Homo sapiens: one gene and its partners. The protein of the gene in region 3 interacts with the protein of the main gene of each other region in a pairwise test. Each region holds a gene or a part of one and is shown on either strand. Other genes may lie near its edges. The genes, in order: NEXN, KCTD19, ZSCAN22 and ZSCAN18.

Evidence for each region.
Region 1: the proteins of ZSCAN22 (region 3) and NEXN interact in binary tests that used the Homo sapiens proteins (3 or more experiments, as listed by UniProt).
Region 2: the proteins of ZSCAN22 (region 3) and KCTD19 interact in binary tests that used the Homo sapiens proteins (3 or more experiments, as listed by UniProt).
Region 4: the proteins of ZSCAN22 (region 3) and ZSCAN18 interact in binary tests that used the Homo sapiens proteins (3 or more experiments, as listed by UniProt).

Annotation. Positions count from the first base shown.
Region 1 is NC_000001.11:77,883,434-77,891,623, reverse strand, and holds the start of NEXN (nexilin), read right to left. Parts: upstream 3,001-8,190; 5' UTR 2,865-3,000; exon of another isoform or gene 2,356-2,864; intron 2,157-2,355; exon of another isoform or gene 2,085-2,156; intron 1-2,084. UniProt on the Homo sapiens protein: Involved in regulating cell migration through association with the actin cytoskeleton. Has an essential role in the maintenance of Z line and sarcomere integrity.
Region 2 is NC_000016.10:67,295,314-67,303,318, reverse strand, and holds part of KCTD19 (BTB/POZ domain-containing protein KCTD19), read left to right. Parts: coding exon 1-173; intron 174-1,396; coding exon 1,397-1,528; intron 1,529-3,745; coding exon 3,746-3,956; intron 3,957-5,655; coding exon 5,656-5,816; intron 5,817-7,059; coding exon 7,060-7,160; intron 7,161-7,913; coding exon 7,914-8,005. UniProt on the Homo sapiens protein: Transcription regulator which is essential for male fertility and for the completion of meiotic prophase in spermatocytes. Regulates progression of the pachytene stage of meiotic prophase and promotes the transcriptional activation activity ZNF541.
Region 3 is NC_000019.10:58,329,994-58,337,998, reverse strand, and holds part of ZSCAN22 (zinc finger and SCAN domain-containing protein 22), read right to left. Parts: intron 3,312-8,005; exon of another isoform or gene 3,248-3,311; 5' UTR 3,197-3,247; coding exon 2,794-3,196; intron 1-2,793. UniProt on the Homo sapiens protein: May be involved in transcriptional regulation.
Region 4 is NC_000019.10:58,082,884-58,088,764, forward strand, and holds the end of ZSCAN18 (zinc finger and SCAN domain-containing protein 18), read right to left. Parts: coding exon 5,805-5,881; intron 4,522-5,804; coding exon 4,433-4,521; intron 4,126-4,432; coding exon 4,023-4,125; intron 3,384-4,022; coding exon 3,291-3,383; intron 2,497-3,290; coding exon 1,802-2,496; 3' UTR 973-1,801; downstream 1-972. UniProt on the Homo sapiens protein: May be involved in transcriptional regulation.

The DNA of each region.
Region 1 (8,190 bases), on a different chromosome or scaffold from region 3:
AGGCCTATTTTGGCCAGAAAGAGTGAAGGGGAAGAAAAGACAGGGAAGAGGCCCAGGATGGACGGTGAGAAGTGAATTTCACCAACCTTGAAACCTCATATAGGGAGCCCCAATCTGCTTGTCTTCTAATCTAAGAGTAAAAAGGAAGAGATGTCAAGAAGGAAATAAAGGAGGAAGAAAAAGAATCACCTGTTGAGCACTTACTGGATGGCAGACACTGCATGGGATGCTTTCACATGTTGTTTTATTGAGATATGTCAATGCAAAAAGAAAGAGTTCTATGCATGGGAAAAAGACTTAAAGGAAATACATCAAAATCCTAACAGTAAGAGTGTCAGATTACAAGAGCCCCTTTTTCCATTCTCCATAATTTTTAACCATAAATATAACATGGTGTATTAACATTATAATACAAATTAAACTAAAATTTAAGGTGGATTTCTGGGTACAAATCCACCCACCCTGGAGTATAGAAAGTAAACTACTATAAATTAAGCCAAACTATACACTGAATATTTAAATAATAAAGGAAAATGTAGCCATTTCAAATGTATATAATATGTAACTATGCAATTATAAACCCAGAAAGAGAACATGAAAGAAACTACACAGGTGATATGGACCGCAGATTGATTAAATAAGAACAGAAATATGTGAAATTGTTAAGAATGTTATAAATCATTTTCTCTCCAAATTATAAACTACCAAGATGTTCTGTGTGTGTGTGGCCTACATAACTATAAAATAACAGTCCTCTCTTCTATAAAAACGTTTAGACTTTTACCTGTCTGTTACATACTTTTCCACATTCACTGCATTATTTTCTTTCTTTTAGGTGTGCACAACTCTCATATTTAAATAATCCCCCTTTTTTTTGTCTTTTAGGGTATTTCAAAGATAACAGGTATTTTTTTTAATAAATGAAGTATGTCATTATAGGCCGCTCAGATTCTAAGCAATCTGAATCCCCAATTAATGTCTTCCAAATATGCATATTTAGTTTTTATTCTGCTCAAAAATGAAACCCTAACCTAAATACTTCAAGTGAAATTTCAGGGGAAAAAGACTGTTCAAAAACCTAGATAATGCATTCCTTTGTTGATGCTAAATATAGTCATCTCAAGATGACATACATTTTGACAATGATCAGCCTTACATGTCAAATTTTCAAAAATAGCACAAATTCCATTTTAAGGTGAGCAGGAACAATTGCTATTCATTACATTTCAATTGAAAATGGATTTTAAAATATGAATCTTTTATTAAAACTGGATTACATTGTAACTATGATGAGGAAAACTGGATTTAAAATAATTTTGTTGTGGTTTTAGCTTAGAATTCTTTAAGGGAATTGCAGATAAACTACATAATTGCATGCATTTTTCTTTAAATTGTTCCTCAGAAGCATTAGTCAAAATATAAAATATCTGCAAAAATACGGTGTTAATTGTAAGGAAGAAGAAACTTAAACAGCTACATTGGTTAATCAAAGTTTACTTATACAAATTATACCTCCCCCCAAAAAACCTTTCTCTCATTTGATTAATTATGCATTTTTTCTTAACAATACCCCAAACTCAAAAGAATTTGAGACAAAGTTTTCTAACTGCAGCAGTTTAACCTGTAAAGGATAATGTTTAGCGGGGGAAATTATGTGGTCCACTCAATAACGTGTGACTAAGATATAAATAACGTGTGACTAAGATATGAACTTAAGTATAAATACTTAAGTTTATTTAATCACATTACCTAAGACATAGTTATGTTGTGACTCGAAGGCCAATGGGCCGCTGCTACATGAATTCATTAACAAAATTTAACGATGAATGATATTCCCGTTGTTTTGGTCAGGGAACTAATTTCTTTATTATGGCTTCTTTTCTCTACCTGTGTCTTCACCAAGGACATTTTGTTAGGACATATCCTTATGCTATTTTTACCTTGTTATCTCTCTGCCAACTTGGTTCACGTTGTGCTTTAATAACTATAAAATGAGCATCTCTAAGTCACTGCAGTAACCAACTATAACCTCTCAACTTCGTCATTTTCTTTATAAATGCCAATGCTAATGCATTTGTAGAACGTTTCACAATTTACAAACAGCTGGAATGGTTTGGCGTTTTCAAAAGCATATAGGCAAAGGGAGTTCTCAAGAGGTGACTACATTCTTCACTCACTTAAACTACGTAAACTTCGTAAACTTCCAGCCCTAGTTGCTCAACCCCCAGCATCCCACCTCGGGCAGAATCACGAAAAAAAAAAAAAAAAGGGTTGGAGACAGGAGTGGGGGGATATGCGGGGGTGTGGGGGGGGAGTAATAGGCTGTTAAATCATATTTCTCCCCATCTTCCACAGAGACCGATCAGAAAGGATTTCTTAACTGGCACTGCTGGCAGAGACGGAGACCGCGGCTGGGGCAAGTGGTGGGGGACGGCACTGAACTTCCCTAAGGACCCCAAGGGTTCAGCCGAGGGATCGGCACCCACTCCGCTCACAGAGGGCTCCCTCCCTACAGTAGGGAACGCACCCGAAACTCAGCCGACAAGGCGCAGGGGAGCAGGGCAAAGACATTGCAACCAGAAGCCCAAGGCCGGCCGACACTTTCAGACCCTGGGGCAGCCCCTGGTAGGCACCCCGCCGAGCCCGCAGGATGCGGCTCCAAGGCAGGGTTCGCCCGGGCCGGGGCCAGCGCGGACCACAGCTGTATGGCGCCCGGCGCCCTCCGGAGCTGCAGCGGAGCACGGCCAGAAGCCGCAGACCCCGAGCGCCTCTCTGCAGCCGCCGTTCCCGCCCCCGCCCCCACCAGGGGACCCGACACCTCCGTCTCCACTCCCCCCAGCCCACGTTCCCCCAACTCTTCTCACCCTGCAGGAGCCGGTGACCGGCGAAGGTACTTCTTTCCGCGTGGAGGGACTGTGCGCGTCCCGCCTGGCTGTGGGTAGGGGTCTGGGAGCTCTGGCCGCTAACACTTCTGCTCCAGCCGCTGGGAGTCCTCTGGCTGCCGCTGCCGCCGCCGCCGCCGCCGTCTCCAGCAGCAAGTTTCCATAAAAGTCCTGGTGTGCAGCCTGTTCCCGCATTCCAGGCGGGCCCAGCGCCGGCTGCAGCTGTTCCAAAACACAAGGCCAGTTCCCCCAACCCCCCACCTCCGCCGTTATCACCCGGAGTGGGGGTGGAGAGTTGAGGAGAAAAGCAGGGGAGGGGGACCGTGGCTGCCAACTTTCCGCCAGAATTTGTCTGTCTCCCGGCCCTAGGTGCGCGAGCTGACCCCCTAACTTTGGGCCTGCCTCCACCTCCAGCCAGGCCTGGGGAAGGAAGGCTGCCTCCGCCATGGGAAAGGAATGAGGCTGAAATGGGCTTCATTACCGGGCTGAAGCTGGCTCCCCCTACCCGCAACCAGTTTGCTCTGGGGCCCACTTCTCTCAGCTACTCTACCCGTCCTAGTTTCCAGTCAAGAAGCCAAGCCACTACATATCTTCTACTACCCTAAGCATTGACCTTTGGCCAAGTTTTCCTTTATTACAAAGAGCGTGGGGCAGCAATCCGGGAACACTTCATCTGTCTATTGCTCCCCTGTTCTTAGCTCCAGTCTTTAACTCTAAAAGGAGAGTTAAAAAAGAAGAAGAAGAAGAAGAAGAAGAAGAAGAAGAAGAAGAAGAAGAAGAAGAAGAAGAAGAAGAAGAAGAAGAAGAAGAAGAAGAAGAAGAAGAAGAAAGTTGAAGGCAGAGGAGGAGGAGGAGAAGAAAAGAAGGAATATATTTATATAAGTACAAATATCTTTATATTCCACCTTTTTCTTAATTGAAGGCAAACCATATCTGGTCTTTCTAAAGCTTCATAAAGGCATCTTTGACTATTAGACACCCACAGACCTTTTTCAACTTGGACCGCCAGCCTGTCAAACCCATCAGACAATACCATATTAAAACCCGAAATGCACACTCGGAGTATTTTTGGTGGACGAGATCTTTAATTCTTCACTGCACTTGAAAAAAAAATCGAAATGACATCCAGATAAAGAATAAAGGTAACCACTTCCACCTTCAGGCCCTAAGCAGACAGCGGTGCTCAGGTTATATTTCAGGGATGTTGAAAAGGCCTTCTGGGCTGGGCGCGGTGGCTCATGCCTGTGATCCCCGCACTTTGGGAGGCCGAGGCGGGTGGATCACTTGAGGTCAGGAATTCAAGACCAGCCTGACCAACATGGCAAAAGGCCGTCTTTACTAAAAATACAAAAAATTAGCCTAGTGTGGAGGCACACACCTGTAATCTGAGTTACTCAGGAGGCTGAGGCAGGAGAATCACTTGAAGCCAGGAGGCGGAGGTTGCAGTGAGCAGAGATCATCCCACTGCACTCCAGTCTGGGTGACAAAATGAGACTCTGTCTCCAAAAAAAAAAAAAAAGGCCGGGCGCGGTGGCTCCTGCCTGTAATCCCAGCACTTTGGGAGGCCAAGGCGGGTGGATCACCTGAGGTCAGGAGTTTGCGACCAGCCTGGCCAACATGGTGAAACTCTATCTCTACTAAAAATGCAAAAAATTAGCCGGGCGTGGTGACGTGCGCCTGTGATCCCAGCTACCTGGGAGGCTGAGGTTGAAGAACCCACTTCGCTTGAACCCGGGAGGCTGAGGTTGCTGTGAGCTGAGATGGCGCCATTGCACTCCAGCGTGAGCAACAAGAGTGAAACTCCCTCTCTCTCTCTGTTTCTCTCTCTCTCACACCCGTACACACAAAAGGCCTTCTACTCAAATATAACTCTGTTCCCCAGTCCCATCCCCACAGTATTTACTCAGGATGGAAACTTTTCTAAGGAGGGTAAGCCATTCATTCCTCGATTACAGAAAAGTTCAAAATTGGTAATTAAAATTATTTAAATGTACCGAACTACGGATAGTGATAGGTGGTCTTGGTAGTCTTGCTTGTGCCCTTGCTCTCTTTGATGCCATCACCTTGGCCTTCTTCAGTTCATGAAACTTTCTATGGGCAGTCTGGCTGCAGGGCCTTTGTATAAGTTGTTCCCTGCATGAAATCCTTTCTCCCACTTTCCCCTTCACCTAACTTCAACATATCCTCCCGATCTCTTCTTAAATGCTGCTTCCTCGGAGAAGGCTTCCTTGCATCCCACCTTTCTCCCCACCTTGCACCTCACCTTTCATCCCACCTTTCTCTTCCCTATATATATATATTCCTATTTATTTGCTTATTTATTTATTTATTTATTTATTTATTTATTTATTTATTTGGAGATGTAGTCTCGCTCCGTCGCCCAGGCTGGAGTGCAGTGGCACGATCTCAGCTCACTGCAACCTCCGCTTCCCCAGTTCAATCGATTCTCCTGACTCAAAAGTAGCTGGGATTACAGGCGCGTGCCACCACACCTGGCTACTTTTTGTATTTTTAGTGGAGATGGGGTTTCACCATGTTGGCCAGGCTGGTCTTGAACTCCTGCCCTCAAGTGATCCACCCACCTCGGCCTCGCAAAGTGCTGGGATTACAGGTGTGAGCCACTGTGCCCTGCCCCTATACATATCAATTTATAATTACATATTTATTTCTGTGATTTAAAGAAGTGAGTTGGCTGAGCATGGTGTCTCACGCCTGTAATCCCAGCACTTTGGGAGGCTGAAGCGGGTGGATCACTTGAGGTCAGGAGTTCGAGACCAGCCTGGCCAACATGGCGAAATCCTGTCTCTACTAAAAATATAAAAATTAGCTGAGTGTGGTAGCGTGCACCTGTAGTCCCAGCTACTCGGGAGGCTGAGGCAGGAGAATTGCTTGAAACCAGGAGGTGGAGGTTGCAGTGAGCCGAGATCATGCCACTGCACTCCAGTCTGGGCGACAGAGTGAGACTCTGTCTCAAAAAATAATAAATAAATAAATAACTAGAAACTTAACAATTTTTTATTTTTATATCCACCCAATAGATTCACCAGATTAAACAAAGCTCTCCATTCTCTCTGTAGAACACTGATAGCTACTCACAGCATGCAAGGCCTGCTTATTTTCCCACCAATTCATCATTCATTCATTCAACAGATATTCAGTTCTATATGCTAAGGATACAGCAGTGATAAAGGAAAAATCCCTGCCATTATGGAACATACATTCTAGTGAAAGAAGGCAGACAATAAGCAAATAAGTGAACTATGTAGTATTTAGTGACATGTAATATGGCAATATGGATAATACCAGAGCAGGGAAGTAGAGAATGCTGGAGGCAGGCTGAGTAGATGTTGTAATTTTAGATAGAGTGGCTAAGGAAAGCCTCATATGAGTAAAAGCCTTGAGGAGAGTGAGGCAGTAGGCTATGTAAATATCTGGAGAAGCAAATATTTGGAGGAAGAGTGGTCCAGGGATAGATACAAAGGCCCAGAGAAGGATTCTATCTGACATGTTCTAGGAAGAACCAGGAGGCTTGTGCGAGTGAAGCTGAGTAGGTGAAGGGTGAGGTAATAGGAGGTGCAGTGGGGAGCAGGAGACAAGACTACGTAGGATTTTGTTTGTTTGAGAATAAGTCTCGCTCTGTCGCCCAGGCTGGAGTGCAGTAGCATAAACTCTGCTCACTGCAACCTCCGCCTCCTGGGTTCAAGCGATTCTCTTCCCTCAGACTCCCGAGTAGCTGGGATTACAGGCACCTGTCACCATGCCCGGCTAATTTCTGTATTTTTAGTAGAGATGGGGTTTCACCATATTGGCCAGGCTGGTCTCAAACTCCTGACCTCAGGTGATCCGTCTACCTCGGCCTCCTAAAGTGTTGGGATTACAGGCGTAAACCAACATGCCTGGCCTTTTTTTTTTTTTTTAGAGACCCAGGCTGGAGTGCAGTGGTGGAATCACAGCTCACCGCAGCCTCTAACTTCTGGGCTCAAGCGATCCTCCTGCCACAGCTTCTCTGAGTAGCTGGGACTACAGGCATGCAACAACACACCTGGCTAATTTTTTAGTTTTTGTAGAAATGGGGTCTTATTATGTTGCCTGGGTTGGTCTCAAACTCCTGGGCTTAAGCATCCTCCCACTTCGGCCTCCCAGAGAGTAGGGATAATAGGCATGAGCCATTGTGCCCAGCCTCTTTTTGTACAGCATTGTAAAGATTTTGGTTTTTACTCTAACATGGGTGGTCTCTGGTAGGTTTTGAACAACATAGTGACATGATCTGACATGTTTACTCTCTCTAGCTTAAGTGCTGCACATACACCAAATGAGGCAAGAGAAGAAGCAGGGAGATCAATTAATTAGGAGGCTTCCACAATAATCGGAATGAGGAATGGGGATTTGGGCCAAAGTGATAGTTGTGAAGGTAGTGAGAAATACCTGGCATATTTTTTTTTCCTTGTTGCCTTTTTAGGTAGAAATGGTAGGATTTTTTTTTTTTTTTTTTTTGTAACTGAATGTGAGGTGTGAGGAAAGGAGGTTTTGGGCCTTTGATCTGGAAGAATGGAGTTGTAATTTACTCAGATAGGGAAGGTTGTGGGAAGAGGAGGTTTAGGCAGGGGTGGTAAGGAGCTCAGTTTTGACATGCTAAGTTTGAGATTACTAAAAATCCAAGATCTGCCCATTTGTATAAGCATTACTTGTATACTTATCACGAGTGATTAGGTTTGTTCTATGTCAGTTGCACGGTTTTGAAATTATACAAAGTAAACATTTAAAAAATGAAATTATAGGCCAGACATGGTGGCTCACACCTGTAAGCCCAGTGCTGTGGGAGGCCAAGGTAGGCAGATCACCTGAGGTCAGGAGTTCGAGACCAGCCTGGCCATGATGGCGAAACCCCGTCTACTAAAAATACAAAAATTAGCCGGGCATGGTGGTACGTGCCTGTAATCCCAGCTACTCAGGAGGCTGAGGCAGGAGAATCGCTTGAACCCAGGAGGCGGAGGCTGCAGTGAGCCCAGATCGTGCCAAAAAAAAAAATAAAGAAAGAAATTATAAAAGCAAAAATAAAGTTATAGTTTTTTATAAAAGCTGAGTTGAATGCTTTGAAAAGACTTGATAAAGGCAAATAGCTTACAAAAATTACCACCAAGCTAGGTGTGGAGAAGACAAATGTAAAAGATTGGGTACAAAATTGTACAAATCTAGGGAGATTCTGCAGTCAGTGCTTTTTAATGTACCTTTTCTCTCCTTTAAAAGTAAGGAAAACTCGAAATTCCAGATGATGATTTAGGGCAGGGGCCCCCAAACCCCAGGCTGC
Region 2 (8,005 bases), on a different chromosome or scaffold from region 3:
TCTGGGGCTCATGGACACACCCCTGTTAGACACAGAAGAGGAGGTGCACTACTGCTTCCTGCCCCTAGACCTGGTGGCCAAATATCCCAGCCTAGTGACTGAAGACAACCTGCTGTGGCTGGCTGAGACGGTGGCCCTCATCGAGTGCGAGTGCAGCGAGTTCCGCTTCATTGGTGATTGCTCTGTCCGGGGTGGGGTGGGGGGCGGGCTGATAGGGCCCATTCACCCCTCCCCATCACATGTCCCACAGAGGCCCAGCTTGGTGCTCAGGGCCTCAGGAGCTTCCCTGGGCAGAGGTAGCGGAAGCATGACAGAGCCTTCCAGGAAGCAAGCAGATTCCAGCATTAGAATCTCACTAGACTCAGGGCTGTTTTATTCCCTATTTGTTTTGGGATGGCCTGGCTGTAAAAGTGTCAGGCACTGGAAAGTGCTAGGGACCACAGGAGTTGGTGTGAAGGGCAGGGAGCTCAGCTGGTTGCCAGTCGGCTTCTCTTCTTACTCTGCCCTTATGTATCCAGCTGGTCTTCCGGCCTCAGTTCCTCTCACCATAAAATGAGGAATCCAGATTGTTTCAAAGGATGGTGCTACCTGCTCTTAATGTCAGCAAACTCAGAATAAAAGGGAAGGAGGGTGGATGGTGACAGGTTCCCCCAGAGTCATAGCAGAATTGTCCACTTGAGGTAGTGGCCTAAGGAAGGATGAGATTTTCCACCTTTGACAGAGAGAGCCTCTCTCCCCCTACTGCCCCAGGATGAGCTCTGTTTGGGATGTGAACTGAATGATCTCTTTGACCCCAAGATGCTACTGCTGTCTAGATAGATAGGGCAGTAAACACTCAAGTTACACTAGGAGCCCAAATGTCTGGAACCCCAGTCATTCATATTCATAGTCACCTAGAAAGTTGTCTGTGATGTGCTTCTGTATCTCTAAGTTGATTCACACAGGACATTAGCGTTGGCTCCATCTCTGCCTCCCATACTGCAGTCCAGGCAGGGACAAACTGCAAGTGCCACCCGCCAGCCCAGGCTCGGCCGGGCCCCTCCTCTCTAAGCAGCAAGACAACTCCCTCTTTTGGAATGACCTGCTCTTGGGTCAAAACTCACAGGGTAAGTCTCAGGGCCAGTGTGCCCACCAGGAGGGCCTGGCTTGGGAGCCCCAGGCCAAGCCACGGGAGGCCACACCCACGGCCTCAGACACAGGAAAACAAAGTAATGTGGGGTCTTTCGCCTTGAAAACCACACACTCAAAGCTAATCTAATAAGGTATGTTGATAAGTTGTTTCAGAACAAGGAGAACCTAGGATAAGTTACAGCACCAGAAACCTGCCAAAACCAGGACCTACAGCTAAACCAGAAATAGCCTCATTAACTCACTGTGTTCCCCTTTGTTTTTCAAGTGAATTTTCTTCGCTCACAGAAGATTTTACTACCGGATAATTTCTCCAACATTGATGTATTAGAAGCAGAAGTGGAAATTCTGGAAATCCCTGCACTCACTGAAGCCGTAAGGTGGTACCGGATGAACATGGGTATGTCGCCAGGAAACCTTGGCTCCCCCTCGACAGTCTTGGCTTGACCTGGAAAAGCCAAGAACAATCTTCCCTCCCACAATCACTTCGGGCTTTGGGGGTTAGTGAGAGGATTGGGTTTTCTGGCTGACTCTGAATCCAAGAAGAGGATTCACAGCCTGAAACCCTGTGTGCTGCCCTGCCGGCTCAGCCTTCCCACTGAGGGTGGGGAGTGGGCAACCAGCCAGGGGTGTAGAAAGCCCAGCCCAGCCTGGATCAGGAGGAGCCCAGCCTGGGTGGGGAGCCAGGCTGGAATGTCCTGGGCCTGAAGGCAGGCTTCTCAGGGGCAGGGGAGGTCTGCCCTGCTTGTGAAAGTGGTGGGGACTAAGAGCACCCACCAGCCACTCCCATCCTTCCTCTTCCAGGCACGGTTGGAGGTGTGGGAAATGCTCAGTGCTTCATGCATCTCATCCACCCCCAAATTCCCTCGTCACCTCACGTGGAAACCCCCGGCTGCTGTGCCTGTTTCTGCCTATTCCTGACGCTTGCTGACCCCTGTCCAGCCTAGGCCTTCGTGCTCCCAGCCCTACCTCATTCCAGCTTGTTCTTCCCCTCATGGTTTCCTCAGGGCTGTTCATCATTCCATTTCCCAACTCCACCTCCATGGAAGCTACTGTGCATGTTATAGGGCGCAAGCTACCTGAGCATGGCTTCAGCCACCATCCCGAGAATGTGTAGAACTGCATTGCACATGGGAAGTTTGGCCTGGACATCACCAGACATTTATCCCATGGCAATCAGGCCTTTCCTTATCTTCAGGCATAGATTTCCCAGCCTTCTCCCAGACAAATAGAAACCCATCCTCTTGGCCAGGCGCTGGTGGCTGATGCCTGTAATCTCAGCATTTTGAGAGGCCAACGCAAGTGGCTCACTTGAGGTCAGGAGTTCGAGACCAGCCTGGCCAACATGGTGAAACCCCATCTCTACTAAAATACAAAAATTAGCCGGGCATGGTGGCACGCACCTGTAATCCCACTACTTGGGAAGCTGAGGCAGGAGAATCGCTTGAACCCAGGAGGTGGAGGCTGCAGTGAGCCGAGATCATGCCACTGCACTCAAGCCTGGGCAACAGAGTGAGACTCCTTCTCAAAAAAGAAACCCATCCTCTTTGTGGGGAGTGGCATGCTCCAGCAGGTCTCAGGACCCTGTCCCAGGGCCTTATAATCCGCTTAAGATGGTGTGAGTTCAGCCCCTTCCCTCAAAGCCTTCTACTCCTCAGAGAACATAGATCATTGTGAGATGGTAGCGTAGTCCCTGCTCCACAGAGCAATGCAAAGATGGAGGAAGTGTGTTGACAGCCAGGCTCTGGGAGCTGGCAGCACTCCTCAAACACAAAGGGTGGCTTTAGCTTTCTACAAAGCATCACAATAAGGGAAACAGCTGTGGTAACCTTGGAGCTGGACAGAGCTGACCTCAAATCCTAGCCCTGCCCCTGCCTAGCTTTGCAGTTTAGGGCAAGATACTTCATTAGCCTCTCAGGGCAGGTTCTTCAACGTGAAATGATGATAGCACTATCCCCTCTTGCAGGGTTGCTCTGAGGATTGGAGATGATCCACGAACATCCCCCAGCAGTGTGCCCACTGGCACATTGTTGCCACGGGAGCAGGGTCCTGAAGGCTGTGATAACTGTATTCTCTGGACTGTACCCTAGGCCCACTATAGGAGAAAAAGGTCCCATCCATAAACCAGCAACCCAAATACCCACCCTGAAAATAATGCCACACAGTATGTCTCTGGGGGAAATTCTGCCCAGGAGAGCCAGCAACAGGGGCTGTGAATCCAGGAAGCCTGTAACACACATTGAGTTTCCAGGCCATGGTTGCCGTTCTTTACCTTTGGATGGTTACAGAAGAGCTTGGAACTAATGAAGACTCCTGCAGAGGCTAGGGCCAGATGGCTGCTTTCCTGAAACTTAGGAAATTCAGATGCTAGTGATACAGCAAATGAATCCCCCCACTCCCAACTCACCTCCCAACAAATAGTTATGACTTCTAAGCCTGAGTATACAAAAAAATTATACTAATTTTGAGAAGATCTTGATTTGGACTGTGCAAAGAAATATCCTTCCTCTGAGCCTCCTCGGTACAATGGAGGCAGCAGTAGGAACCGAGCCCCAAAGCCTCCAATCCAGCTATGACCATGGGGGGCCTAGGAGTCACCCCTTTCTCTCTGACACAGGTGGCTGTTCCCCGACCACCTGTTCTCCCCTGAGCCCCGGGAAGGGGGCCCGCACAGCCAGCCTGGAGTCCGTGAAACCGCTCTACACAATGGCCCTGGGTCTGCTGGTCAAGTACCCGGACTCTGCGCTGGGCCAGCTTCGCATCGAGAGCACGCTAGACGGAAGCCGACTGTACATCACAGGGAATGGCGTCCTCTTTCAGCACGTCAAGTGAGGTCCTCCTTAGGGCACACTGAGTCCCATCACCCTTGGCTCTGCCCTTCCCTCTAGGAATAACCTGGGGCCTTTCCCACTAGCCAGAGGTGAAGTGTGTCCTTGGGGCCAGCCCATCATTTTAGCCATTACCATCACCAGCACCGCCACACTACCACCAGGTTAGGGCCTCAAAGGAGAGGGCTAGTGCCAAGGTACAAGGGTTGCCAAGGTTCAAAGGCTTCAGACCATTTCCTATTTCTGTCCTCTGCAGTCCATTTCCCTGGTTCTAGCCCTGTGCTAGGTCTGAGGTGACCAGGCCACAGTCAGGGAGCTGGGTACCTCCCTGTGCAGACCCCTCTACAAAGGTCCTCCGCCACTCTTGGGAGGCTCACTGGACACACAGAATGGCCAGAGCCAGGGGTGAGCCCCCTTAGAAGCAGGGCAGGGCAGGCCAGGCCAGGCCAGGCTTCCCAGAGGTGCTGATCCTCAGCCTTTGCCTTATGGGATGAGCTCAGGATGTCCTCATTAGTGCAGGGGCAAGGAATCCAACCCTGTTTTGTAGATGGGCAAACTGAGGTGCAGAACAGCAGAGCAACTCTCTGAGGGTCACAAAACAGACTGGCACCAAAATGGAAGGTAGAAGTGGGTTTTCTGGAGCCCCTGGGAGAGGGTCAGCTGACCCTGAATGCTGTCTTTTCCCAATATTGTTGTTTTGGGCTCTTTTAGCCCATAAAGTCCATATCTTTCAGAGATGTCCACCCTGATGTCACAGAGGGCAAAGACAAGTGCCTTGGAAGGGAGGGTTTGGAGAAGGGGGTTGATGTTTAGACCCCAGCCTTTTTCCAAGACCGTGGCAGGCTGCAACACAGTGACTGAGATGTCTTGGGCAGATGCGTATGAGGCAAGAAGGGAGCGACTGGGCCCTGGGCTGGCCCTGGAACCGGAAACACGGCCTGGAGACATGAAATTAGTCCATTTAGAGGGCTTTGCTGAAATAAGTCAAGCTCAGCTCCAAAAATGTGACCGGTTGTCCAGGCTTACTCTCCTACAAGGTTAAACAGATTTCCAGTTAAAACAAGGAAACGGGCTGGGCGCGGTGGCTCACACCTGTAATCCCAGCACTTTGGGAGGCCAAGGCAAGCAGATCATGAGGTCAAGAGATTGAGACCATCCTGGCCTACATGGTGAAACCCCGTCTCTACTAAAAATACAAAAAATTAGCCGGGCATGGTGGCGGGTGCCTGTAGTCCCAGCTACTCAGGAGGCTGAGGTAGGAGAATGGCATGAACCCTGGAGGCGGAGCTTGCAGTGAGCCGAGATCGCGCCACTGCACTCCAGCCTGGGTGACAGAGTTAGACTCCGTCTCAAAAAAAGAAAAAAAAAAAAAAAGAAACCCCGTCTCTACTAAAAATACAAAAAATTAGCCAGGCGTGGTGGCGGGTGCCTGTAGTTCCAGCTACTTGGGAGGCTGAGGCAGGAGAATTGCTTGAACCTGGGAGGCAAAGGTTGCAGTGAGCCAAGATTGCGTCACTGCACTTCAGCCTGGCGACAGAGTGAGACTCCATCTAAAAAAAAAATACAAGGAAACGATGTTAATGATGCCTGATTTAAGCCAGTGTTGCGGCAAGGCATCCTAGGCATGGAAAGTTTACAGGCTCGACTCTCTTGGGGTACAATGCTGATGTTCTTCATGACAGACCTTTCCTCTGGGCAGGAACTGGCTGGGGACTTGCCGGCTGCCCCTGACAGAGACCATTTCCGAGGTATATGAGCTCTGTGCCTTCCTAGACAAAAGGGACATCACCTACGAGCCAATCAAAGTTGCTTTGAAGACTCATCTGGAGCCAAGGACTTTGGCACCCATGGATGTGCTCAGTAAGTGAGAAAGCTTCTAGGTTTGAATTTAGCATCAGGGGAGTATCTGGGAGATTGGAGGGAATAGATGATGTGGCCAGGACGAGGAACTGTAGATGGAGGAGGAGGGGAAAGCCAGGCCAATATTTTGGATTTTTACAAAAGGGAAACTTTCATATTAAGTGCTCCCTCCTCACCTCCAAGCCCACAATTCGTCTCCAGCAGCAGACAGGGCTGTTACCCAGTCTGGGGCCACGCAGGACCCCCAGGGCAGGCCTGCCTTGACCCTGGGAGCTGACTTGCTGTGCTTCTCACAGCCATGCAGGGAGGAGCCTCCTCTGTTAAACAGAGCTGTCCCTGGGTCCATTTAACAGCCAAAAAATAGGTTCAGAGAAGAAAACTCACTCAAGTTACACAGTGGTCAAGCTGGGGTTTGACTGAGTCCAAAGCTAATGTTGTTTTCACCAGCTGCCTATAACTTCTTATTACCAAAAATTTGGGGGACAAAGTTTAAGCTGTATTACTATCATTTAGCAGCATCCAACATTTATTGAGTACCGGTCATATACCAGGACAGCAGTAGACACTGGCGGCACAGAAGTAAGCAACACAGACTTAGTCCCTTTCTTCCTGGAGTTCACGGTCTAGTTCTATACATCTTATCTCTTGGTTATATAATCTAGTTATATACCCTTCATTCATTACAGAGCTCATTAGAAACTGCTTCCCAAACATCAGAACAAGGCCTACATATAGTCATCTCCAGGAAAAGGGTTATGGGTTCATCTTTCCAGCATACAGCCCCCATTCTCCAGACATGCCTAGAGGCTTAGTCTCATAAAAGTGACAGGGATTTGATGAGAGTTGGCTCCATGACATTTGCCAAACCACGAACATAAACACACAGAGAGAGATTCCTAGCTTCAGTCTGAGTGGCCACATGAAAAGCTACACACTCAGGACACACCCAACCAGAAACCGGAGGCAGCTGGCATTGTAGGTGGACAGGGTCATCAACCCAGCTTTCCTGAGGGAGGAGGGTCAGGTGAAGAGGGGCAGTGCCCTTTCCCGCCTCACCACCCAGGAAACCTTGCAGCAAGCAAGGTTTATGTCAGGGATTTCTGCTGCTTCTCAGACTAGGCAACACAATATGACTGAGGAAAGATATTGAGACTTAACGTGAAATACACTACTAACCAAAGGGCCCTACCTGCTTTCCCTTCTGGCCATATGATGATGTGTTCTATCTCCTGGATTCCCATAGATGAGTGGACGGCAGAGATCACTGTGTATTCCCCACAACAGATCATCAAAGTGTATGTTGGAAGCCACTGGTACGCAACCACCCTGCAGACACTGCTGAAGGTACTGACGGCCTCGGCTGCCCTGCTCCCCATCTGGCATCACCACCTGAGCTGCTCTGGGGGCCATCACCTGGCCCTCACACAGCTTCCAGCACTTGCTTAGAACAAAGGCTTTCCCGCCAGGCACGGTGGCTCATGCCTGTAATCCCAGCACTTTGGGAGGCTGAGGTGGGCAGATCACGAGATCAGGAGTTCAAGACCAGCCTGACCAACATGGTGAAACCCCGTCTGTACTAAAAATACAAAAATTAGCTGGGTGTGATGGCACGTGCCTGTAATCCCAGATACTTGGGAGGCTGAAGCACCAGAATTGTTTGAACCCAGGAGATAGAAGTTGCAGTGAGCTGAGATCGCGCCACTGCACTCCAACCTGGGTGACGGAGTGTGACTCTGCCTCAAAAAACAAAACAAAACAGAGCACAAGTGGACCGAGTGGCCTGCTGGGAAGGCCCTCCAGAGTTTGCATAGGGAGGGGGCCAGCTCTGAGGGACCTGGACTGAGAAGGAGGTACGGTGGGCTTCCAAATGCCTTGAGAGGGTGGTCTAGGGGCCATCAAAAGTTGAAGCAGGGATGATGTGCTTCTCCCTGGAAGCTCTGCTCCCCACCATGGTTCCTTGTGACTGACAAGACAGGGAAATGGAATCTCAAAGCCTCTGCTCTAGTGTAGTTGGAAAAGGGGAGTGAGAGAAGATTGACCTGCCCCTTCGCAAAGACCTAGCCTCTGAGACTGAGTCCGGTGTCCAACCCCCTCCAGTATCCAGAACTGCTGTCCAACCCTCAGAGAGTGTACTGGATCACATATGGACAAACCCTGCTCATCCACGGGGATGGCCAGATGTTCCGACA
Region 3 (8,005 bases):
AATTTTGGCTCAAGAGTCAAGAGGAGAAACCCTGATGTGGAACTGATCTGGAGACAGAGAGAGAGGGAGGGTCTGTCCTTGTCAGGACCCTGAGCACATGCACCCCTGCAGGCTCTGATCTCTGTGGGGTTGCAGTTCTGTCCCTCACACTCAACACCTTGCGTCTAGGCCTGGATGTGTCCCCTGCAGGCTCTGATCTCTGTGGGGTTGGAGTTCTGTCCCTCACACTCGACACCTTGCGTCTAGGCCTGGATGTGTCCCCTGCAGGCTCTGATCTCTGTGGGGTTGGAGTTCTGTCCCTCACACTCGACACCTTGCGTCTAGGCCTGGATGTGTCCCCTGCAGGCTCTGATCTCTGTGGGGTTGGAGTTCTGTCCCTCACACTCGACACCTTGCGTCTAGGCCTGGATGTGTCCCCTGCAGGCTCTGATCTCTGTGGGGTTGGAGTTCTGTCCCTCACACTCGACACCTTGCGTCTAGGCCTGGATGTGTCCCCTGCAGGCTCTGATCTCTGTGGGGTTGGAGTTCTGTCCCTCACACTCGACACCTTGCGTCTAGGCCTGGATGTGTCCCCTGCAGGCTCTGATCTCTGTGGGGTTGGAGTTCTGTCCCTCACACTCAACGCCTTGCGTCTAGGCCTGGATGTGTCCCCTGCAGGCTCTGATCTCTGTGAGGTTGCGGTTCTGTCCCTCACACTCAACACCTTGCCTCTAGGCCTGGATGTGTCCACAGGTGCTCAGTGAATTCTGGCTGAATGAGGGAATCCATCCAGAAGCCCACGATGGTGAAAATTTCTGCAAGTAGAACCCCAGGTAGAATATGGCTGCTGGGGGTGAGTACATGAGGTACCCATCTGGCCTCTCAAGCCCCTACATTGTAAAGTACTATGAAGGCAGAGTGTGGCGGAGGTGCTCTTGGAGATCAGAGTGTGCATGAGGTAGAGGAATGCTCGCACTGACCTGCCCTGCATGGGTGCAAAGGACACATAATCTGGCACATCTACTGGATGGATTCCAGGGAGGAGGCAGAGACAGGTGGAATACCCACTGCTCAAGTCCACAGTGGGGCTCAGCAGTGCAGAAACTGGACTCAAACCCCAGGTCTACCACCTTAATCAGTCCTGCCCTCATCTGGGACTCAGTCTCCCCATCTGTAAGCCATGGATGCTGTGCCGCTGGCCTTCCAGGGCCACTAACCACTATCAGGCTCTTGTCGTGCTGGGCCCCAAGCACAGTGGGTGACTTCCATCGCCTCATTTCAGCTTCGACCTGCTCTCAGAAGGAGGTACTGCTGTGATTCTGTTGCAGATGGGGAAACTGAAATCCAGCTGAGGGAAGGTGTTGAGTAACTGGTACAGGATCACAGTTAGCTAGTGGCCCAGTTGGGATTTCAGCTCCAGAATGTTCTCCTCCAGGTCCACAGGCAGTCTCCCCTGCTCCCCCAGCCATCTGCTTGGCCCTGTCTCCCCCTTCCTTCCTCTATCCAGAAACATCACACCACCTGCTTTTACCAGAATACACCAGTGCAAATCACACTGCCAGGCCTTTGACCCCACCATTCCCTCTGCATTTTACCCTTTCTCTGAGCTTTGGCCAACCCTGTGGGAGGATGGGGCCACTCCCTCCTTCCTCTCCCTGTCTCTGTGACATCTGCTTGGGCATAGACCAACCTCTGTTCCAGAGAGGCCTGTTTCTCCCAGAGCTGAACAAATTATCCTAACAGTTGCAGTTACCATTTATTTAATCTGTGCCAGGCACCATTTCAGGTGCTGCACGGGTATTGCCTTGTATCTCGCAACACCACTAAGGTGGGCGTTTTTATTACAATCCCCATTTTACCCATGAGTAAACTGAGGCACAAGGGAGTCACATGGCCAGGAAGAGCAGCAGCGGTTGGATCTACTGAGCCTTGATGATGCAGCTGTATCCAGACTCCACATTCCTCCTGCACACTGCACGTTTCCTCCCAGTGTGTGGTATGCCCACCTCCTATCTGTTGCCAATAGGCCAGGCCAAGCCCATCTGAGACGAGCCACCACTCCCTGCTCTGGATTGTCCCAAGGCTGGGTCTTCCCTGCATCCCACTGGACCTCCCTGGGTTGGGATGTTTGTGTGGGTCTCTGTGAGTAACAGTGCCCAGCTGAGCCTGGGGCAGGTCTGACCCACCCAAATCCTGGAGGCCAGCCCAGGGTGGGCATAGAGAAGGTACACAGGGACATCTGGTATTTCCGTCACCCCCAACAGCCACCCCAGGCACCCAGGCCCTCGTCTGGTTTCCTCTGAGAAACAGCCAGTTGCTCACTGTTAGTCCCTGGGATTTGGTTGGCCAAACACAAACATAAGATCCCAACCAGGCCAGTGGGGGCTCAGACCAGGGACCTCTTATTGTTATTACCCCGGGGTTTCTACATTGGTAAGACATAAGCCTGGGGTTCCTGGCTATCTTTAACCCCTTTGGAAAGAGAACCTAAAATAAGAATGAAGCTAACACAGAAAAAACCAACTGAGAAACAGAACAAGAGAGGAAGAAGAGAGTTCTGATGCTGTCAACAGATCTTCTGGATATAGCCGTATCTGCTGCCTCCTTACCCTTCTTTGCTTCAGCCCATTTCAGCTCGCTTTTGGTCACCTGCAACCAAAACACACCTGTCTACAACAGTGTGTGAGAGTTACGGTAAAGTACAAATGTGAGAATGGGTGCATGAGCAACCCCAAACCAGAGCCCTGTGCTCCCATGTTCCTGTCCAGGGTGTATCTCTGGTGTGCCGTGAAGCTGCCCACGGCGCCCCTTTACCTCTCTTGTCCAGCACCTGAGTCAGATCCTCCACCAGCACAGCGGCTTCCTCTCCGCTCTTGGGACTCTGGGCTCCCACCCAGGCTTGGATCTCTGGGGGCAGCGCACCCAGGAACTGCTCCAGCACCAGCAGCTCCAGTATCTGCTCCTTGGAGTGCGCCTCGGGCTGCAGCCACTGACAGCACAGCGCTCGGAGGTGGGCCAGGGCCTCGTGTGGACCAGATGCCTCCTCATAGCGGAAGTGCCGGAAGCGCAGGCGTGCAGCCTCAGAGTGAGCAATGTGGTCATGGCTGGATTCTCCGCCCTGGGAGAGGCTGGCTTCCTCTTCCTCCTCCACCTTCACTTGAAGGAAGCTGTCCTCTTCCCACGGCACTGGGCTCAGGGAGTGCTTGGGGATGGCCATCGGGCAGCAGTGCTCAGTGAGACACAGGATGCCGGAGCCTTGGAACTGGGCCTGCAGGAATGTCAGAGCTTCAGCATCACATGGAACCTGGGCCCTGCCTCATGCCTACAGAGCAGGGAAAACACAGGCTTGTGGCCCGTGAGATGTGAAAGACTCTCACAAAGACATAGACAATCCTCATAATTAGGACAGCACCCACTTGGTGCTGAGCACTGTTCTAAGCTACTACTGCTTGCATGTAGACTCATTTAAAACTTACAACAAACACCATCCTGGCTAACATGGTGAAACCCCGTCTCTACTAAAAATACAAAACAAATTAGCCAGACGTGGTGGCGGGCACCTGTGGTCCCAGCTACTCAGGAGGCTGAGGCAGGAGAATGGCGTGAACCCGGGAGGCGGAGCTTGCAGTGAGCCGAGACTACGCCACTGCACTCCAGCCTGCGCAACAGAACAAGACTCTGTCTCAAAACAAAAACAAACAAACAAAAAACTTACAACAAACTCAGGAGGTGGGACTTTCTACCTATTTTATGGATGGAAAAACAGACACTCAGGAGGAAAATATTTGCCCAAAGTCCCTCAGCTAGTGAAGGGTTAACAGAGAGCTAAGCTACAAACCCACGCAAACCTACAGCCAGCCTGTTTAAGGCGTGCTCCTCCCCAACAGAGCCAAGTCTTTCTCCCTCTGTTCCCCAGGTAGCCACATGGTCATTCTCTCACTTTACTTGCTAATTATTTTGTAGTGTTTGAGATTGATACATAATTGACTTTCGCCTTTCCTCTTTTCTAATGCACATATTTAAGGCTATAAATTTCTCTCTAAACACAGCTTTAGCTATACATCACAAGTTTGATATGTTGTATCTTCATTATCATTTAGTTAAAAATATTTTCTAATTTCTGTTACAATTTCTACCTTACTCATTAATTATTTTTTAAAATTTATTTTATTTTTTTGAGACGGAGTCTCCCTCTGTCGCCCAGGCTGGAGGGCAGTGACGCTATCTCGGCTCACTGCAACTCCGCCTCCCGGGTTCAAGCAATCCTCCTGCCTCAGCCTCCCAAGTAGCTGGAACTACAGGTGTGCACCACCATGTGAGGCTAATTTTTGTATTTTTAGTGGAGACGGGGTTTTGCCATGTTGGCGGGGCTGGTCTCGAACTCCTGACCTCAAGCGATCTGCCTGCCTCGGCCCCACAGAGTGCTGGGATTACAAGCATGAGTCACCATGCCCAGTCCCATTGGTTATTTATTTAAAACTCTCCTGCTTCATTGCCAAACAACTGGGGGTTTTCTAGTTGTCTTTTTATTACTGATGTCTAGATTAAGTCTGTTGTGGTCAGAAAACATGCTACAATGGATTTCGATCATTTAAAATTTGCTGAAACTTGGTTTGTGACCCAGTGTATGGTTAATTTTGGTTAATGTTCCATGAATACTTGAAAATAATGCAAAGCTGTCTTAGCTATGACACCAAAAGCATAAGTAACAAAAGAAAAAATAAATAAACTGGACTTTATCAAAATTAAAAGCTTTTGTGATTTGAAGGACCACATCAAGAAAGTAAAAAAGCAGCCCACAGAGTGGGAGAAAATATTTGCAAATCATATATTTGATAAGGGACCTGTATCTAGAACAACTCCATAGTAAAAAGATGAATAATACAATTTTAAAATGAGCAAAGAATGTGACTAGACATTTCTCCAAGGAAGATACACAAATGGGCAATAAATACATGAAAAGATGCTTAACATCACTAGCTACCAGGGAACTGCAAATGAAAACCACAATGAGATAGCACTTCACACCTGCTGGGATGCCTATAATCAGATAACATGTGTAGGCAAGGATATGGAGAAACTGTAATCCTCATATGCTGCTGCTGGGAATGTAAGATGGGATAGCCACTGTGGGAAGTACAGTCTGGGAGTTCCTCAAAAGCTTAAACAGAGTTACCCCATGACCTAGCAATTCTACTCCTACGTATAGACCCAAGAGAAATGAGTATATGTCCTCACAAAACTTTATACATAAATGTGCATAACAGCATTACTCATAACAGCAAAAAAGGAGAAACAATCCAAATGTCCACCTGATGAATGGATAAAATGCTGTATATACCTATAATGGAACACTATTCACCATAAACAGAAATGAAGTACTGATTAATGCTACAACATGGATGAACCTTGAAAACATGATGCTAAGTAAAAGAAGAAAGACACGGCAGGGCACGGTGGCTCACACCTGTGATCCCAGCACTTTGGGAGGCCGAGGTGGGTAGATCACCTGAGGTCAGGAGTTCAAGACCAGCCTGGCCAACACAGTGAAACCCCGTCTCTACTAAAAAATACAAAAATTAGCTGGGTGTGGTGGCAGGCACCTGTAATCCCAACTACTCAGGAGGCTGAGGCAGGAGAATCTCTTGAACTTGGGAGGCAGAGGTTGCAGTGAGCCGAGAGTACACCACTGCACTACAGCCTTGGCGACAGAGGTAGACTCCATCTCAAAAAAAAAAAAAAAAAAAAAAAGCATATTAGTGTTTGTCAGAGGCTGAAGAGAGACAAAAATGAGAGTGGTTGCTAATAGGTTTGGGAATTTCTTTTGGGGATGATAAAAATGTTCTGGAGGCCAGGCGCGGTGGCTCACGCCTGTAATCCCAGCACTCTGGGAGACCGAGGCGAGTAGATCACGAGGTCAGGAGTTCAAGACCAGCCTGACCAATATGGAGAAACCCCATCTATACTAAAAATACAAAATCAGCCGGGCGTGGTGGTGCATGCCTGTAATCCCAGCTACTTGGGAGGCTGAGGCAGAAGAAACCCTTTAACCTGGAAGGTGGAGGCTGCAGTAAGCCGAGATTCTGCCATTGCACTCCAGCCTGGGCAACAAGAGTGAAACTCCATCTCAAAAAATAAAATAAAATAAAAATACAGCTTTTAAAAAAATAATGTTGGCCAGGCACGGTGGCTCATGCCTGTAATCCCAACACTTTGGGAGGCCAAGCTGGGCCGATCACAAGGTCAAGAGATCGAGACCATCCTGGCCAACATGATTAAACCCCGTCTCTATTAAAAATACAAAAAAATTAGCTGGGCGTGGTGGCGTGTGCCTGTAGTCCCAGCTACTTAGGAGGCTGAGGCAGGAGAATCTCTTGAACCCGGGAGGTGGAGATTGCAGTGAGCCGAGATCACGCCACTGCACTCCAGCCTGGCAACAGAGACTCCATCTCAAAATAATAATAATAATAATAATAATAATAATAATAATAATAATAATAACGTCAGCTGGACGCGGTGGCTCACACCTGTAATCCCAGCACTTTGGGAGGCTGAGGCAGGTGGATCACAAGGTCAGGAATTCAAGACCAGCCTGGCCAGCATGGCGAAACCCCATCTCTACTAAAAATATGAAAACTAGACAGGCGTGGCAGCGGGGGCCTGTAATCCCAGCTACTTGGGAGGCTGAGACAGGAGAATTGCTTGAACCCGGGAGGTGGAGGTTGCAGTGAGCAGAGATTGTGCCACTGCACTCCAGCCTGGCCGACAGAGTGAGATTCTGTCTCAAAAAAAAAAAAAAAAAAAGTGCATTTGATAATTGTTGGGTGTTCTCTCCCTTATTTAAGTCAGGCCTCTACACAAAAGACGCCTTATCAGTAAGTCTCTGTGCTTCTACACTGCTTTATTTGCTCTTTACCACCTGATGTGTGATACACGTATGTGGTTACTTGTTTATTATTTACTTGTCCCTGTTGGAGTATCAGCACATTAAGGGCAGGGGTTTTTGTTTAGGTCTTTGCTTTATCCCCAGTGTCTACAGCATTGCTGGGCACATACATCAATAATAATACTTTTGTTCAGCACAGCCCCATTAGGTGCCTACTCTGTGCCCAGCACTGTACTAGGAATGCAAATACGGGGAAGGCATGGGTGCTGGGCTCAATGGCCTCAACGGAAGGACAGCGACCAACACATGATAAGATAATTATGATGATGGATATGGGTATAGTGTGCAACAGGAATAAAAGAAAATGGGAACAGACAGTCAGTGGGAACCTACCGGCTACCAGGCCACACTAGCCTTTGGCATCTGTTATCCCATTCAAGCCTTAGCTCCACCCTGTGAGTCAGTATTACCACTCCCATTTTCCAAGTTGGGGAAAGTCAGCTGCTAGAGTCATCTGGTCAGTAGGAACAAAGCTAGTGTTTGAGCTCAGGCTATCTGCGATCTTTCCTCCACACTCAAAGCCTTTCCAAATTCTAGAACTGTGAGCACTGAATGCTGGTCAGGGACAGCAAAAAACTACTTTCATGTACTATTGGTGAGGGCAATCAATTAGAATATCTTTGGCAAACAATTTGGCAGTATGTTGTAAGAGCTTTAAAATGACTGTGCTCTCTGCCTCAATATTAATTCTACTTCTCAGAATCTAGCCCCATTTCTAGATGGGGGTGCTACCGACATTCAGAGGGAGATAATACTTTCTTTTTGAAAAAATTCTTTTTTTCTCCAGACGGAGTCTTGCTTTGTCGCCCAGGCTGGAGTGCAGTGGCGCAATCTTGGCTCACTGCAAGCTCTGCCTCCTGGGTTCACGCCATTCTCCTGCCTCAGCCTCCCGAGTAGCTGGGACTACAGGCACCCACCACCACACCCAGCTATTTTTTTTTGTACTTTTAGTAGAGACGGGGTTTCACCGTATTAGCCACGATGGTCTCGATCTCCTGACCTCATGTTCCGCCCACCTCAGCCTCCCAAATTGCTGGGATTACAGGCATGAGCCACTGCGCCTGGCCGCATGTAGGCAAT
Region 4 (5,881 bases), 250 kb from region 3:
CTTTTGAACTCCTGACCTCAGGTGATCCACCTGCCTCTGCCTCTCAAAGTGCTGGGATTACAGGCGTGAGCCACCGTGCCCAGACCATTTTAGCCTTTTTCTTACCAGAACCACACTCAGCTTGGGGCTTAAGATGGATAGGCTAAGAGGGGAACTAAGCTTGTAACTGTTGCGGAGACAGGCACTCCAGGTGACAGTTCACAGGCCCTTTCAAGTGACTGGAGCCATGGGATCATTTCTCTCCAAGGATTTGTGAGTAGAAGTGATGTGTGTCATCTCCCAGGTGAACAGGTTCGGCCTTCCCTACATGCTCCAAGGGTACAGTGAAGAGCAGAGCTACAACAGAGATGGGGCCTGGATCCCTGAATCACTGTATGGAGCAGAGTGCAAACCAATATATAAGCAACAGCAACACCAACACAGGACAATCGACTGTTAGTAAATAATTTTTTTTTCTTTTTTTCTTTTTTTTCTGAGATGGAGTCTTGCACTGTCACCTAGGCTAGGGTGCAGTGGCACAATCTTGGCTTACTGCAACCTCCGCCTCCCAGGTTCAAGCAATTCTCCTGCCTCAGCCTCCTGAGTAGCTGGGATTACAGGCACGCATCACCACAGCTGGCTAATTTTTTGTATTTTTAGTAGAGACAGGGTTTCACCATGTTGGCCAGGCTGGTCTCAAACTCCATGATCTGCCTGCCTCAGCCTCACAAAGTGTTGGGATTACAGGTGTGAGCCACCACGCCCGGCCCATGAATAAGTACTTACTAAGTCTCTGTGATTTGGGGGTCATTACAACAGACTGCCTGCTCAAACACAGTGACAGAAAAAGAGGCACCAGTTTCTGTATCTACAGGGAGCAGTTAAGTTTATGCGCAGGGAGCAGTTAAGTTTATGCGCAGGCAATGGGAATGATACTGTAATCTTGAGAATAAATGCAATCAATGAAAAGATCACCTTATGTAGCCCAAGGAGTTTAGTCTCCTTTGCTCAGACAGACAGATCTTTATTAGTGTTTTCAACTTATTTTGCTCACAACTTCCCAGCAAGAAATGTCTTACATTGCAACCAGTTCTCACATTTAGATGTATGGGTGAAAAGTTTCACAAAACAGTATTTGCCTTTACTACATGATGCATTCTGGCCTACTTTATTCTGCTTCATTGCTGTGTAATGCTGGTGACCACTTGCTAATTGATTTCCCATTTTACTAAATGGGCTGGGACCCACGGTCTGAAAACCCTGCCTTAGGCTGCAAGCATTTCTGTGATCTCTGCGAGCTACTCCATATAGGTAAACACACGCGAGGTAAACTAGGAAACAGCTTCTGCTTTTGCAGATTAGAAGTGAAGTTGACATCACGCCAAGTACGAAAAGGCTAAACAGCTGACAAAATTTCCACTTGAGCAACCCTGGGGAGCGCAAACAGGAGGAATCGGGGCAAGGGTGACTTGAAGAAAGCACTGGCAGATCACGCACTTTAAGGCAACTCTACACTGCACAATGTCAAATAACCTAGCATGGGGCGGCACTAAATGGCTGCAGGAAAGCCGAGTCTTCTTCCACATCCGGCGGCTCCCCTCGGATGCGAGCGCTGGCCCAGGGTGTGTTTACAGAGGTGAGGGCTTCCCGTGGACCCTTCTCGTTGGGAGCGCTTAGCCTCAGGAGCGGATTCAGGGCACAGGCAGAGGACGTCCACAAACACCACAGGAAGCCGCCACCCAGGGGCGTGGAAAGGCCCAATGCCTCGTCTGGGATTCACGGCCGGCAAAGCGGCCCCTCCGGAACGGGACAGCACAGCGGCTCACCTCTGCGCCTCTGGGGGTGCGGGGGGAGCCTCGCCCTCCACGCTCTCTGGGGGACCGCCCGCCCTAGCCCCCGCCTGGGCTTCGCGGGTGGACGGTTGGGGGCCCCGGGCGCCCCCCAGCGCGTAGCTTTTCTCCTTCTCGTGGGTCTTCTGGTGCTCGGCTAGGGCCAGGCTGAAGTGGAAGGTCTTCCAGCAGCCCTGACAGGCGTAGCGCTTCCGGCCGCCATGGCTGCTGTGGTGCTCCATCAGGTGCGAGAGCCACGCGAAGGCCTCCCCGCACTCGCCGCAGGCATAGGGCTTCCCGCGGGACAAGCCCGGCTCGTCAGCCCCAGGGCCCTGCCCGGCCTCCAGCCCTGCGCTGTCGCCGGAGCTAGAGACGCCCTCGAGGCTCTGCCCGTCCCCATCCTCGGGGTGCGGCCTCTTGGTTCCCAGTTTCGCCGTGCCCCTGTCCGGGGCAGGCTGCTGGATGACGGACTGCCTCTGCGATCCGGTGGCAGAGTCGGACTCCGCGTCCTGGGGGTCCTGCGGGTCCGGGGCCTTCCCAGGCTGCTCTTCCTCCTCCTCAGTGGTGCCCGACGGGGGATCGGCAAGGGCGTCCCCAGGGGGCGCCTCCGTAGGCAGCTCAGGCAGCACCCCCGCGGGGGCGGCCTCCTCGCAGGCGCACCCAGCGCTCTCCTGCCGCCTCCCGCCTTCTGGAACAAGGTCAGAGCCCTAGCGTGAGCGCCCCGCCCAGGGCCAGGGAGAGGAGGACCCAGCCGAGCCTCAGCTGCCGGAACAGCGCACAGGGCTCCGGGCTCTGGATCCCCGCGGGGCTCACGGCTGTTTGGAAGCAGCGCTGTCCCTCCCAGGCAGCCCTGCAGCGCATGCCCCGCGCCTGCTGCTGCAGATGTGGGACCTGGAGGCCTCCAACAACGGAGGCCACCGACAGGACAGGAAGGACAGCCCCACTGAGCCCGGGTTCTGGAAACCGCGCCTTTGGAGGTCTCCACCTGGCCACTAGCTTGGCCACAAGATGCACGATGCAAGGAGAGCCTGCTCAGAGCGCACCCTCCTGGAGGGAGGGGCCCGGCTGCCAGCGAAGAGAGTGGGGTCAATAGCTAAGGCCAAACCCCCCAGCGACAAGCCCCCTGGCGACAGGCACCCAGGGCCCTCCAGCCCAAGTCCGCCTCTAGGTGTTCTTGTTGGTGTGCTGGCACAGAGCCTCCAATGGGGCAGAACGGCCACCCCCGGGACCAGTCATACACAGATCCTGGCAACTAACACCACTGCCGTTTCCACCGACCAAGTCTTGGGGTGGTCTGTCATGCAGCAAGAGACCATGGACGTAACTGGATTCCTGCCTCACTCAGACACGGTGGTGGGAGAATGGTGAAGCAGTCAATGCTGAGGTCTTTGCTGGGGCTGATGGCGCTGGGAGGGGCCCCCTCAGCCTCTGAAGAAAAAGCAAACCCCACCCGGCCCTAACACCAATTCAACCCAACCTCACCTGGGAGGCTGCTTCCTTGTGGATCTCTTTCCACCAACCGGAGTTCCTCAGTGTCCAGCCTGGAGGCAGCGTCAGGCTGGGAAAGCTGATACCCTGAGTGGGGTTAAAAACCAAAGAAATAAAAGGCATCAACACAGAGTGGCTGATGGGTGTTGTGTGTCGTGGGCCAGCCAGGGCAGGCTGCAGCCCACCTCCTCTTCTCTGTACTGGGACCCCCACCAAGGCCACCTCCCTGTTAGGCCCCTGGACAGTGGAGCAAAGAAGAAGGCGAGGCTGGAAGGGCAACGGGGCAGGCGGAGGCAGGACTCAGAGAAAGCAAAGCTAAAGAAAGACATTGACAAAAATTGCTCAGGAGTCTGAGTCGGGGGGCCTCCCTAAAAGGAGGGTTTCTGGGGCAAGAACGTCTACAAAAGAGGAGACCCTTGATCAGGCCATGCAGGTGAGGCCCTGTATCTGGCAAGGAGGGTGGCAATGTGGGCGCCTTGGGGCCAGGAGGCCTTTCCAAATTCCGAGGCTTCAGTCCTACAGGCAGGGCCTGGGCAGAACTCAGATGTTTAGATCAGAAAGGGTGGGGGCTTCAGCGAATAAATTCAAGCTCCAACACGTGCAAGTTCAAATCCTGTAAGACATCACAGTGTCCCAGCCAAAGTCCCTGGGGTCACAGTCTCCTGCACCAACCCCTGCGGAAGGGGATGGGGAGTGGGGCGTGACCCCGAGGCAGGCGACTCTCACCCCACAGGAGCAGCTTCCGGTAGCTCTTCAGGTTCTCCTCGGCAGGGTCCAGGTGGCCCCACTCCCCCAGGTGCTGAGGGTCCTCTGGAAAGGACTTCAGCTTCTGAAACATTAGTCGTGGCTGAGACCTCCCACCTGCCCTAGAGAAGGGAGGACCCGCCGCAGCCCCACAGCCACAGGAGCAGGCTAGGAGCCAGCCCTGGCCAGGGACTCTAACCCAGGTGCACTGCAGGAGGCAGCCCCCTTCGCACCACAAAGATTCCGCCCTCACGCTCCCACCAGGGTGGGTTCTGGGCCTCAGCGCTGTGGACGTTTGGGGCCACAGCCCTCTGCTGAGCACTGGTGATGGGGAGGGGGATGCCTCTAAGCTGAGGCCAAGGCCCCTCACCCACCTGCTCGTGCCCACCCACCTGCTCGGTGTTGGCAGGGCCGTCCTCTTCGGTCTTTGCTTCTCTGACCCTCCTCTGTTCCAGAAACAGGGGGTCCGGAGAAAGCCAGGCTGGGGAGAAGGAGAGGCAGAGCTGAGGCAATGAGCTCCCTGTGGCCAGGTGCCCTCAAGGGTCAAGGAGCCCCCGCTGCCTCCCACACAGGCCCCAGTGTGCTTCTGTGACAGCAGCACCCAAGGCTCAACGGACACTACACCTTTCCCTGATTTACAAAGCAGCGCGGTGGCCACAGGGCTTGGGTGGCCCCAGAGATGCCCATTCAAGTCCACTGGATTCATGGAAATCTTTTTTTTTTTTGGTTTGTTTGTTTTTTAAAGACAGGGTCTTGCTCTGTCACCTAGGCTGGAGTGCAGTGGCATGATCTTGGCTCACTGCAACCTCCACCTCCTGGACTCAAGCAATCCTCCCACCTCAGCCTCCCAAGTAGCTGGGACTAAAAGTGCGGACCCGGCTAATTTTTGTATTTTTTGTAGAGATGGGGTCTCCCTATGTTGCCCAGGCTGGTCTCGAATGCCCGGGCTCAAGTGATCTGCCCGCCTTGGCTTCCCAAAGTGCTGCGATTACAGGCATGAGGCACTGTGCCTGGCCTTCGTGGAAATCCTAAAAAGCAACACCACATAGTGCTGGGCTGTATCCAGGCCAGTGGGCACCTTCCGTGCTGGTAATGAACAGCCACAAAACTTCTGGAAAACCACATGGAAGTTTCTATTTTATGTGAAATGTCGAACTCACACACCACTTGCCCAGTGGTCCTGAGGAGTCCACCCACAGTGCCCAGAGCCTCACATATGGGCACACAAGTCAGGAGGTGTCAGGGCAGCTTCACTCCAAGGGGCAGAGAGCCCACCTCTAGGATGGGGATGGGCTGAGCACGCGATGCTGGGCAACTAAAGAACCAGACCCAACCACAGCCTGGGGGACCCACCCCTCGAACAGCAAGCACTCAGACACAGCACACCACACACACAGAGCCCGACCCCAGGCCCTGATTATGCATGTGTGATGTGCAGGGAGACATGAGGGGACGTGCATCAGGACACTTGAGACCCTTTATTTTCAGAGGGTTCATGGTCGGGGGTTGGGAGATTCTTTTCTTTATGTATTGATGTTTCTTCACTATTTGTGGTAAGTATGGATGATCTGCATAATCTCTGAAGACTAATTTAATAAACAATGTCTAACATTCAGAGAAACTACAGGAGGAAGTCCCAATGATAGCATGGACCATGGAGCCCCTGACTCCCTGGCTGCCCTTCTGCCCTCTCCCAACCACAGGCCTCTGCCCAACACCCCACCTAAGGCCCAGCAGAGGCTGCCAGGCTAGCTGGGCACTCACGTGTCTCAGAAGGTGCCGGGATCTCCCCAGCTCCAAGGGCCTGGCTGGGGCTCGCGAGCTCGCCTGGTAGCAGCAGA